Linked DNA regions of Homo sapiens: region 1 is linked to region 2. Evidence: fine-mapped expression QTL. A gene starts in region 2. The other region holds a variant in brackets. All regions are shown on one strand. Distances are between the middles of the regions. Region 1 has its middle 41 kb from the start of RASGEF1B. Region 2 holds the start of RASGEF1B (RasGEF domain family member 1B).

The links. PIP is the estimated chance that this variant, and not a neighbour inherited with it, causes the effect.
Region 1: its variant is the best candidate, but not a certain one, in a credible set for the expression of RASGEF1B in whole blood (TOPMed, PIP 0.74).

Annotation. Positions count from the first base shown.
Region 1 is chr4:81,510,647-81,515,043 of GRCh38, reverse strand. No RefSeq gene overlaps it. Among named protein-coding and RNA genes, the nearest start is that of RASGEF1B, 41 kb to the right of the region's middle. The variant C/T (reference allele first, on the strand shown) is at 1,697.
Region 2 is chr4:81,469,411-81,473,807 of GRCh38, reverse strand. It overlaps RASGEF1B (RasGEF domain family member 1B), which reads left to right and starts at 1,901. Exons shown (of 14, transcript NM_152545.3): 1 at 1,901-2,038. RefSeq lists a silencer at 1,560-1,969.

The DNA.
Region 1 (4,397 bases), 41 kb before region 2:
TGAGTTTAGTGAACATGGATCAAACCATCTATATAGAAAAATTGGTGAAACAATGAGCCTATGGCTTGAAACATACACTGTAGAAAGAAGCATCCAAGTAGCACAAAACAGCTTAACTCACCTCCATGCACATGACCCTAGCAGAGTTTCTGACCCAAAATTTGTCTCCAGTCCATCCTAGATAGCAATAACCTCTCCAAAATTCTGCTGTCGTTCTTTTTCTGAAGGGCTCATAAATCAGATGTTATTAGTTAGGATAATCTTCAAGGCTCTTTGTTGACTGGTCCCAATATACTCTTTTTGAGCCATTTTCCCCAATGAAGCTCTCTATTCCAAGTAGGTCAGTTTCTTGAAGACATATGCTCTGTTCATTTCTACCTTCAAATCTTAACCTATATTCTTTCAGTTAAAGAAGTCTCCTGAGTTTATTTGTTTTTAAAGTGGTCTGTTTTGCTTATGCCAATTAAAATTCTGTGTATCAAAAAAACCTAAATAAAACCCATCTCATTCCCATAATCTTTCTTGGCATCTGCTGTTTATACCATAACATCTAATAACTTGTCTGTATGTGCTCTACTTGCTTCCCAGTTGCATTTTATTCATACATCTTGTCTGCTCAAACAAAGGACTGTTCTTTTGAGACCTAGGTTTGGTTTTTTGCTTCCTTGTCATTTCTCCTAATGCCTACCACAGAGCTGACTGGACTGTGGATACCAATTAGACTGAATCTCCAGAAAGCACTTTCAAATTGGGAGGCAGAGAATGAAGGAAATGGATACATACTATCTGCCATGATGGGTATTTGTTATCTAAAGTAATCCTCACAAAATGCTGCCAAGCATTTATTATTAACCTTACCTTTTAGAGATGAAGAAGCAGATGTTCACAAAAGCTAAGTTACTTGCCCAGTGCCACATGGCTAGTGTGTGGCAGAGCTGGAATCTGAAAACAGATGTTTGATGTCAAAGCATTTCTTTTTTTCCCCTCTTTTTACTCAATATTTTGCAATGGTAGCAATCTTTAAGACTGAGGAGTATGTTACTATGCATTCTTAGTGGGTAATTTCATGAAAAAATTAGTTTTGCCTATAAAATGGCATTATCATCTTTCTTTTAAAATAAAATTAAAATTGCATAGAAGACAGCTTATCATTATCAAATAAAATATGGAAACATAAGGGGAATCATCAGGGAAATGAAGTCAGTAGGGAAATAAAAACCTTGCCCAGGTTAGTTAACTAAGAAATCCTGAGTTTAGACAAACTTCAGGCTCCCAGACTTTTTGGAGAGGCAGCAAGAATATCAAAGTATATTTTCTATTGCCTGGAAAAGGGTCTTTCAAAGATCCACATTGTTTTTCTTCATTTCTCTCTTGCTTAACTTTAGAAGACAAAGTAAGATAGTGCAAGTTTGATTTCTAATACTTTCCAAAACAAAACCTAGGCCCAGTATACTAAGAAGGCAAAATGGCAAAAAAGCAAATTAAAAAAAATTTTTTCATTAAAACCCAGTTCCTTTTTCTACCTATAAACCTCAACCACATTACCCATTCTCCCTGTTCCTGTGCCCCCAGCTGCCCTGGAAACAGAGTATTTGTTTAATATCTTTTTCTCTGTTAAGCTTTTTCTTTCTCTTTGGTTTCTCACTGAATGGGGGACACCTGTGTTGTGTAGTGGGCATGCTGGGGGGAGGCCAAC[C/T]GCATCTCCTGAGCTATAGCAGAGGGAGGGAGGGTTCATCCTGTCTCACAGGAGGAAAACTCCCCCTGAGAAACTTTCAAGGCCTTTTTGTGGGATGACTACAGAAAAATACATTTTATTGACATCTTGGTTGTTTCCAGTTATTCCCATCATTTCTCCTGCCTGTGAGATCTGGAAACTCACATGCTAAGTCATACACATGTAATTCCTCTAGCTGACAGACATCATTCGGAGGCTGCATAATAAGAGGAAGGGAAAGGGGGAGGGGGAGGAGGGGGGGGCTTTCTGAGGAGGCTGAAGCTTTCCTTACATAGAAAAACCATTTCCCTTTATTCTAACCCCAGGCTTGTTTTAATTTCAAGCTATTAATTTGAAATAGCTAATCAGTTGCTACAGGCATACACACACTGCCGGGACTGCAAAATACCTGCCCTTTTCTAATCAACCCCAAAGTGATAATGATTTATATGTATAATGTGCACTTAGTCTGTAAAGCCCAGGCACTTTGCACGAGATGATTTGTGGAGATTATTCAGTAGGATTTTCTAATTCATACTAATGTCTGGGAGGCCCATGGAGGATTCTCACATTTTCATGATTGAACAAGAGAGTGAACACACACATTTTTTTAAAAACACAAACTCTAGGAAGAGGTTTCACAAAGCTTATTTTATGCATTTCCTTGGACAAGTATCACTTTGTTTTGAATGTTTATCATTCTCCATGGGGTACTAGTGGAAATGCCCTAGGAGTCCCTAAAGAGAAGTGAAGCTTACATGGCCTGAGTTTTCATTGCTGCTTCAATACCAAATAGTTACCGGGAAGCAGGATGGGTTTCTTCATTTAAATGAGAATTATTTGGTTTGGCTTAATGAAGCAAGAATTAACTGTTAGCCGTATCACTTAACCCACTGCTGTGATGTATCTATCTTTATTAAGGAAATCTAATACATTCTTGGCAGGTTGCAGCAACCTACACATTTGAGAGAATTGGTAAGAAAGAAGACTATTGATTTTAATTGGAATGACAGCAGGAATTTGAGAGAATGCAGTAATCTGCACTGAAATGGATGTTACCACTATCCCAGCTACAGTGTGTGTCCTGTCTTCCACCCAAACGGTCAATCAGATCTTCACTGACATTGCAAAGTGTTGTCTTGACTACCCCTACTTAAATCCCACTCTGGAGATTCCATTTCCATAATGGACCACTCTCTCGAGGGAAAACACAGCTGCAGCATCATTAAGTGCCCAACCCAGCATAGCACCTTCCCTTGGAGTTCTGCCATTCAAGTCAATTGCAGTGTTGACCCAAATGAGATTATTAAATATCTTGGGAACATTATAATCCCAAGAAACATGGTGGCCAAAAGACCAATTTATACTTACTTAAATTTGACTCATCTTTCCCAGAAAGCCTTTCTCAAACTAAAGTTTAATTCAATATAATAATTGAAATATACTCACCATCCAAATGGGTAGATTCCTGAGGTCAAATGCTTTAATTATTGGGGCCATTATAACATTAGAGACAGGGAGTCATGAGAAAGAAAAAGTCTGGCAAACAAGGGAAGTAACTGAGGATTTGTAAAAGTCTGGCAAACAAGGGAAGTGACTGAGGATTTGTTTTTTAAATAGAAATTCTATTTGTATGTCGCTTCACAGGAGTGCTATTTTATTTTAGTACCTGCCTCTCAATGGTCTCAGTATACTTTACCAATAACACCTTTTTATCATTTATGTGTCTCAGGTTCTGACTTTTGCAACTTCCAAAATATGCCTTTTGCCAGTAATAAGTGAGAATTAAAAAAATTACAGCATATTCCTGAAACATCATTTGGGTAGAATAATTTTTTTGTTCCTTTCCATATATCCTTATTGTTGGTTCCTATCCTAATATTTTAAGAAGGAAAGAAATCCTATTGTGCCTAGAATAGGTATAAATATGAACATCTTCAGGCCCCTCTTTACAGACTTTGTTTACTATTCAGTATTGGATATATGGAAAAATAAGCAGAAGAATAGTGAATTAGCTTGTGTTGCATGTCACTAAGGTTGCAAATTTATGAAGTGAATCAGACTTCAGATCCAATACTTGCCAAATACTGCTTGGACAGTTATATTTTGAGCAATTATTTGCCGAAGATATGTCTGCAGAATACACGGATACCTTGGGAAGAGGTATTGATCATTTCAACTCCCCCCAGCCAATTCTGAACAAATGACTGTACATGTTTTTAAGGGAACTGAGCATGTTCCCTAAGGATGCCCCGTAGTTTTTCTGGTCCAGTGTTTCTCTATTCCTGTTATCACAGTCATATTCCAGCTGAGGTAATTCCATCTTAATGTGCCTGTTACCTATCAAAATGGATGTCACAGTACATTTCCCCCACAGGAGACCGCTTCTGTGGGTAAACGAGGCACATATATCTGGATTGTCACACACTCTAGAAATCCCCTGGGTCTTACAAATGCTTCAAATTTATAGCTGCTAGTTTTAGTGTATGTGGGTGTGTGGGTGACTGTCAATCAAACATGGAGCTTAACATTTACTGTGACTTTTTATATTGAAATACAATTTCTTTTCTTCCTCTGTGGTAAGCCCAGAAATGGAGTGGAACAAGTTAATTAAAATATTGGTGGCTTAATACTTTTCAGCCACTGATAGTTTCCAGTCAGCTCTTCTCTGGAACATTCTTTG
Region 2 (4,397 bases):
CAGGCGCCACTGGGGTATGGAAAAAAAAAGAACTCCTGTAGCTAGTTCGGTGTCTGCCCAAATGGCCACCCAGTTTTGTGCTTGAAACCCAGGGCCCTGGTGGGGTAGGCACTGGAAGGAATCTCCTGGTTTGTGGGTTGCGAAAACTGGCACAAGCACAGTATCTGTGCTGGAGTTCCTCAGGCTCAGTCCCTCATGGTTTCCCTTGGGTAGAGGAGAAAATTCCCCAACCCCTTGCACTTCTCGGGTGAGGCGATGCCCCACCGTGCTTCAGCTCACTCCCCGTGGGCTGCACCCACTGTCCAACCAGTCCCAGTGAGATGAACTGGGTACCTCAGTTGGAAATGCAGAAGTCACATGCTTTCTGTGTGAATCTCGCTACGAGCTGCAGACTGGAGCTGTTCCTATTCAGCCATCTTGCCAGCAATCCCCTGCAACTCTTAATTTCTGGCTACAGGATCAGTAATGTCAAGGGTGTAAGTGACTGGCCCAATGTCATATGGCTCGTTTGTTACAGAATCGGGATGCAAAAACTGAGCTTGAAAAATCAACCAACCAGTACAACCACAACAGCAGGGCAGGGCCACCCAGCCTCTGTGTTTCACTCTGCATGGCTGGCCCACCAAGTTCCCTTGGCCTTATGGCTTCTCATTTAAACTGCAGAGAAGCTATGGTTAAGTCAAAGGCTCAAGTAGGTTAGAGTGAATTACTGAATCAGAGGAGTCCTATTTACACAAAGGAGGGAAGGAGTATCATAAAGAGGAAGAAAAGTAAAAGGAGGCATAAATGAAGAAAATGAAAGAGGAATCCGCTAAGAATAGACAAAGTGAGCGTCAAAATGACTCCACCCCAGGAAGGAGAGGGGGAGGGACCCATGGAGCAGGAGGGAAAAGGATTCCTCCCCCTCAGTAATCTTAATTATAACAGTATAGGACAGGTATGAATAGTGTTGTTTTATATATGAGAAAACTGAAGCTCAGAAAAGCTGTATCACTTACTCAAGGAAATACAGTTGGTAAGAGTCTCCTAATTCTGTAAATTTTTTCTTTTCATAGGTCTCTTTCTTCCCTTGTTTCCATCATTATTTCCCTCTGGCCTCCTTTTATGTGTACAAAGTGAAGTACGGAGGTTTTTACCTTTTTTCTGAAATAGTTATCAAATATCCCATGATGGAGTGAGTACGTGGTTACCATGACAACACAGCCCTCACTGAGGACTAGCCTCCCTGCTTTGCCTCCGGAATCATGTTTCACGGAACAGGTTCCTCTCCGTGCAACTTCTAGCAGCTGTAATTCTACATTTTGTTTGGGTGATTATTTGCTGAATGTCTGTCCTCCACTAGACTATGTAAGTTTCACAATGGCAGAGACCAGCCTACTTTGCCAAGTGTGCCCCCAGCGTTTTGCACAGTGCTTAGCACCAGGATCTATGTGTTATTTGCTAAGCAAATGTTCTGTGGTTCCTCTCCGCTCTCTTCTGAAAGTTACATGGACAGTAACCTTTAGCTCACAATTATGTTAATAAATACTGTGTAACGAGTCGGGCCGGTATTTACAGATAGTATACACGTGAATGAACACACACACACTCACGACTGCACAACAGCCCGGGGCAGGTGCACTCAAGAGGAAACGCGCACAGTCGGAGCCAGCCTGACCAACGCTGTTAAACACCGCTGCGCTGGGCTCCGCGGGCCTCTGCCGCGTGGGAGGGCACCCAGGCTGACGCGCTGCGGGAGTCTGGGGCCCACTGGGACTTGCCTGCCGGGCCGGGTGGCGGCGGCGTGGGCGGTGAGCTGCGCGGTGATTGGCCCGCGCCTGCCGGGGCGGGGCGGGGCTGGCAGCGGGAGGCAGGCGCCTGAGCCAAGGGGGGCGTGCGCGGCGGCGGCTGCCGTAGTTTCAGTATAAACAAGGAACCCGACTGGTTAGACAGATTTTGTTTTTCTTCTTCCCGCGCGCTTTAGCTCCCTGTCCTTTGGTCGCATTTGTGGGCGCGCGGCACGCAGCCGGGAGGCCGAGGACTCGGAGTTCACCTGCAGGTAGGTTGTTCCCTGGCTGGGTTGTTCTCCCGGCTGGGGGACCACAGCCCGGAGCGGGAACTCCGGACCCTACTGCGCGCTGCGCTCTCCCTGGAGATCCCTGGGCCGCGCGGGGAGCGAGCGGGGCTCAGAGACTTCACCGGCTGCCGGGTGCGCTCCGAGGCGGCGGGAGATCCCGAGGCGAGTGAGCGCGAACGCGGGCGCCAAGAGCCGAGTTACAGCCCGGGACCGGGGGAGGGCCCCTGCCCGGCCGCTGCGGGTACCTGGGACTGCCGCGGCCCCAACAGGTGCGAGGCCGAGCCGCTGGGACCCGGGCAGGGCCAGGCTTGGGTTGGGTTGGGTTGTGCCTTCCCTCTTTCTCCCTGATCCTGCAGCCAGGCCTTCTGTCTCGAGATAGGTGGTTTTTGAGGATTTGTCTTGAGTTGTAATCGCGTCCATCATTTTTTTCATCCCTTCTTTCCTTCGTGTGCATACCTAGGTTGATTCTTCCACTTCTTGACCAGTTTTGTGTGCGTGTGTGTGTAGGGGGAGCTGTTTATTTTTGTTGTCAGTGCCATGTAATCTAAAGTCTGACTCGTAGGAAGGGACAAGGGAACAGAAGTCACATACTCGCCACCGACAAGGTGATGTGCTGTCATCCTTCGGTGTTCACCTGGCAAACTTGGGAGACACTGAGTCGCCTTGCTTTTGCCAGAGCTCAGTTGAGTCGCCTCGGGTCACCTGCCTGGGGAATCTCAGATGAGCTAGAGGTATCTAGGAGCCTCGCGGGCAGTCAGCTTAAGGGAGGTTCTTTCTAAGGGAGCTGTGAAAACAACTTAAGTGCTGCACCAGGGAAAAGGGCGAGACGGGGGCTGGGGTGCGCGCGCCTTTGTGTGTGTGTATGGACGTACCATTTCAATACTGCTTGCTGTCTTGCCCCAACCAAATCGGCGCAGTTCAGGCAAAAGCAACGTAGCTTAATCCTCTGACACTGCCGAGGGTGGCACAAGTGTGGCAGATAACACAAGGAGATTGTCTAGACGGCGATTTTCTCTTCGGAATGTAGATGTGTCCATCCTCCCTGATGAATTCGGTGGATATGGTGTATATAGATGAATATGCACACAAATTTGTGTATGTGTTTGGGCCGAACGCGTCTCCAAGGAGTCCTTCGTCAGCACCATGTGACGACGGTCAGGAACTGCTGGTGTGTGTAGATCTATATTTAGCTCAGATGGTCTAATGGCCGAAGGGAGGGTCTCTGAACTGGGTGCATAAAGGGGAAGAGTCTAGGGATCAGGGTGGTGCACTCTTGAATGATGTCTGGCACAGTCACACTCAGATGGGGTGAATAATTGCCCTTTCCTCGTGAAAACAGTAGCTAGAGCTTGGCATGTGATGGCTATGCCTTAATTTAAAACATAGTTGGACCATGGCGATAAGCCTCTGCTAAGAAACAAGGAGGTTTACAGTTAAGCAGCGTATATACCTGGTTGGCCGTTTGGGTGAAAATAACTGGTCCCATGAGATTTAGAACAAATATAGAGTTGCTTTCTTTAATAAAAAGAAATAAAAATTATTTGCTGTTGAGGTTTTCATAACAGAAAAAAAGAAGGCAGCTTGTTAAACCCTATCATTAAAGGTAATTTTATTTTTTTAAGTGAGGGGCAGTGGTGGAGCTAGAGAGGAGGACCTTAGGGCACTTTTGACAGATATCAGGGTTTACAAACAGCGTTATATTATGCCTCTCAAGCAGATTTTCTGGTGAAGATGAGATCAGCCACTGATTAACAAGTTTCTTGTTGGCATTCTTCCACTGCATGTCGGGTCAATCCTTTGTTTTCTTGGAGGTGGGCAACATTTCTAACTACTAAGCATATTGGCCTTGTACTTTCCAGTTGTCTAACGAAGTGTTACATTCTTAGAATTTATTTCTCCTATGGTGCATTTTCAGTCTTGCTTCATTTTATGTGCTCCACTGGATATTTTATCTGATACTAACACATCTAATACCTGGGAATCATACTGTCTTTTGGAGAAGAGAATCACCAGAAAGCATTCCCATGTATTGTCTCCCGCTAACCCCCTACAGCTTAGCATCTAATAGATTATTTATATGTGTGTGTGTGTGTGTGTATATATACACATATATGTACATATATACATATGTATTTATATGTATAACTAAATCAAAGTATTATAATAACACATAGTTCTTATATAACATTTTATTCTTAGAACCTAAAATTAACTACTAGTTAATAGAGTACAATAGACTATATAAAAACAATTCAATACACCTTTCTAAGGAAAAAGACATGGTAAGAAAATTGAAGGGGAGGAGCTGGGATCCCTAGTATGACTCAGGAGTGTTGGGATC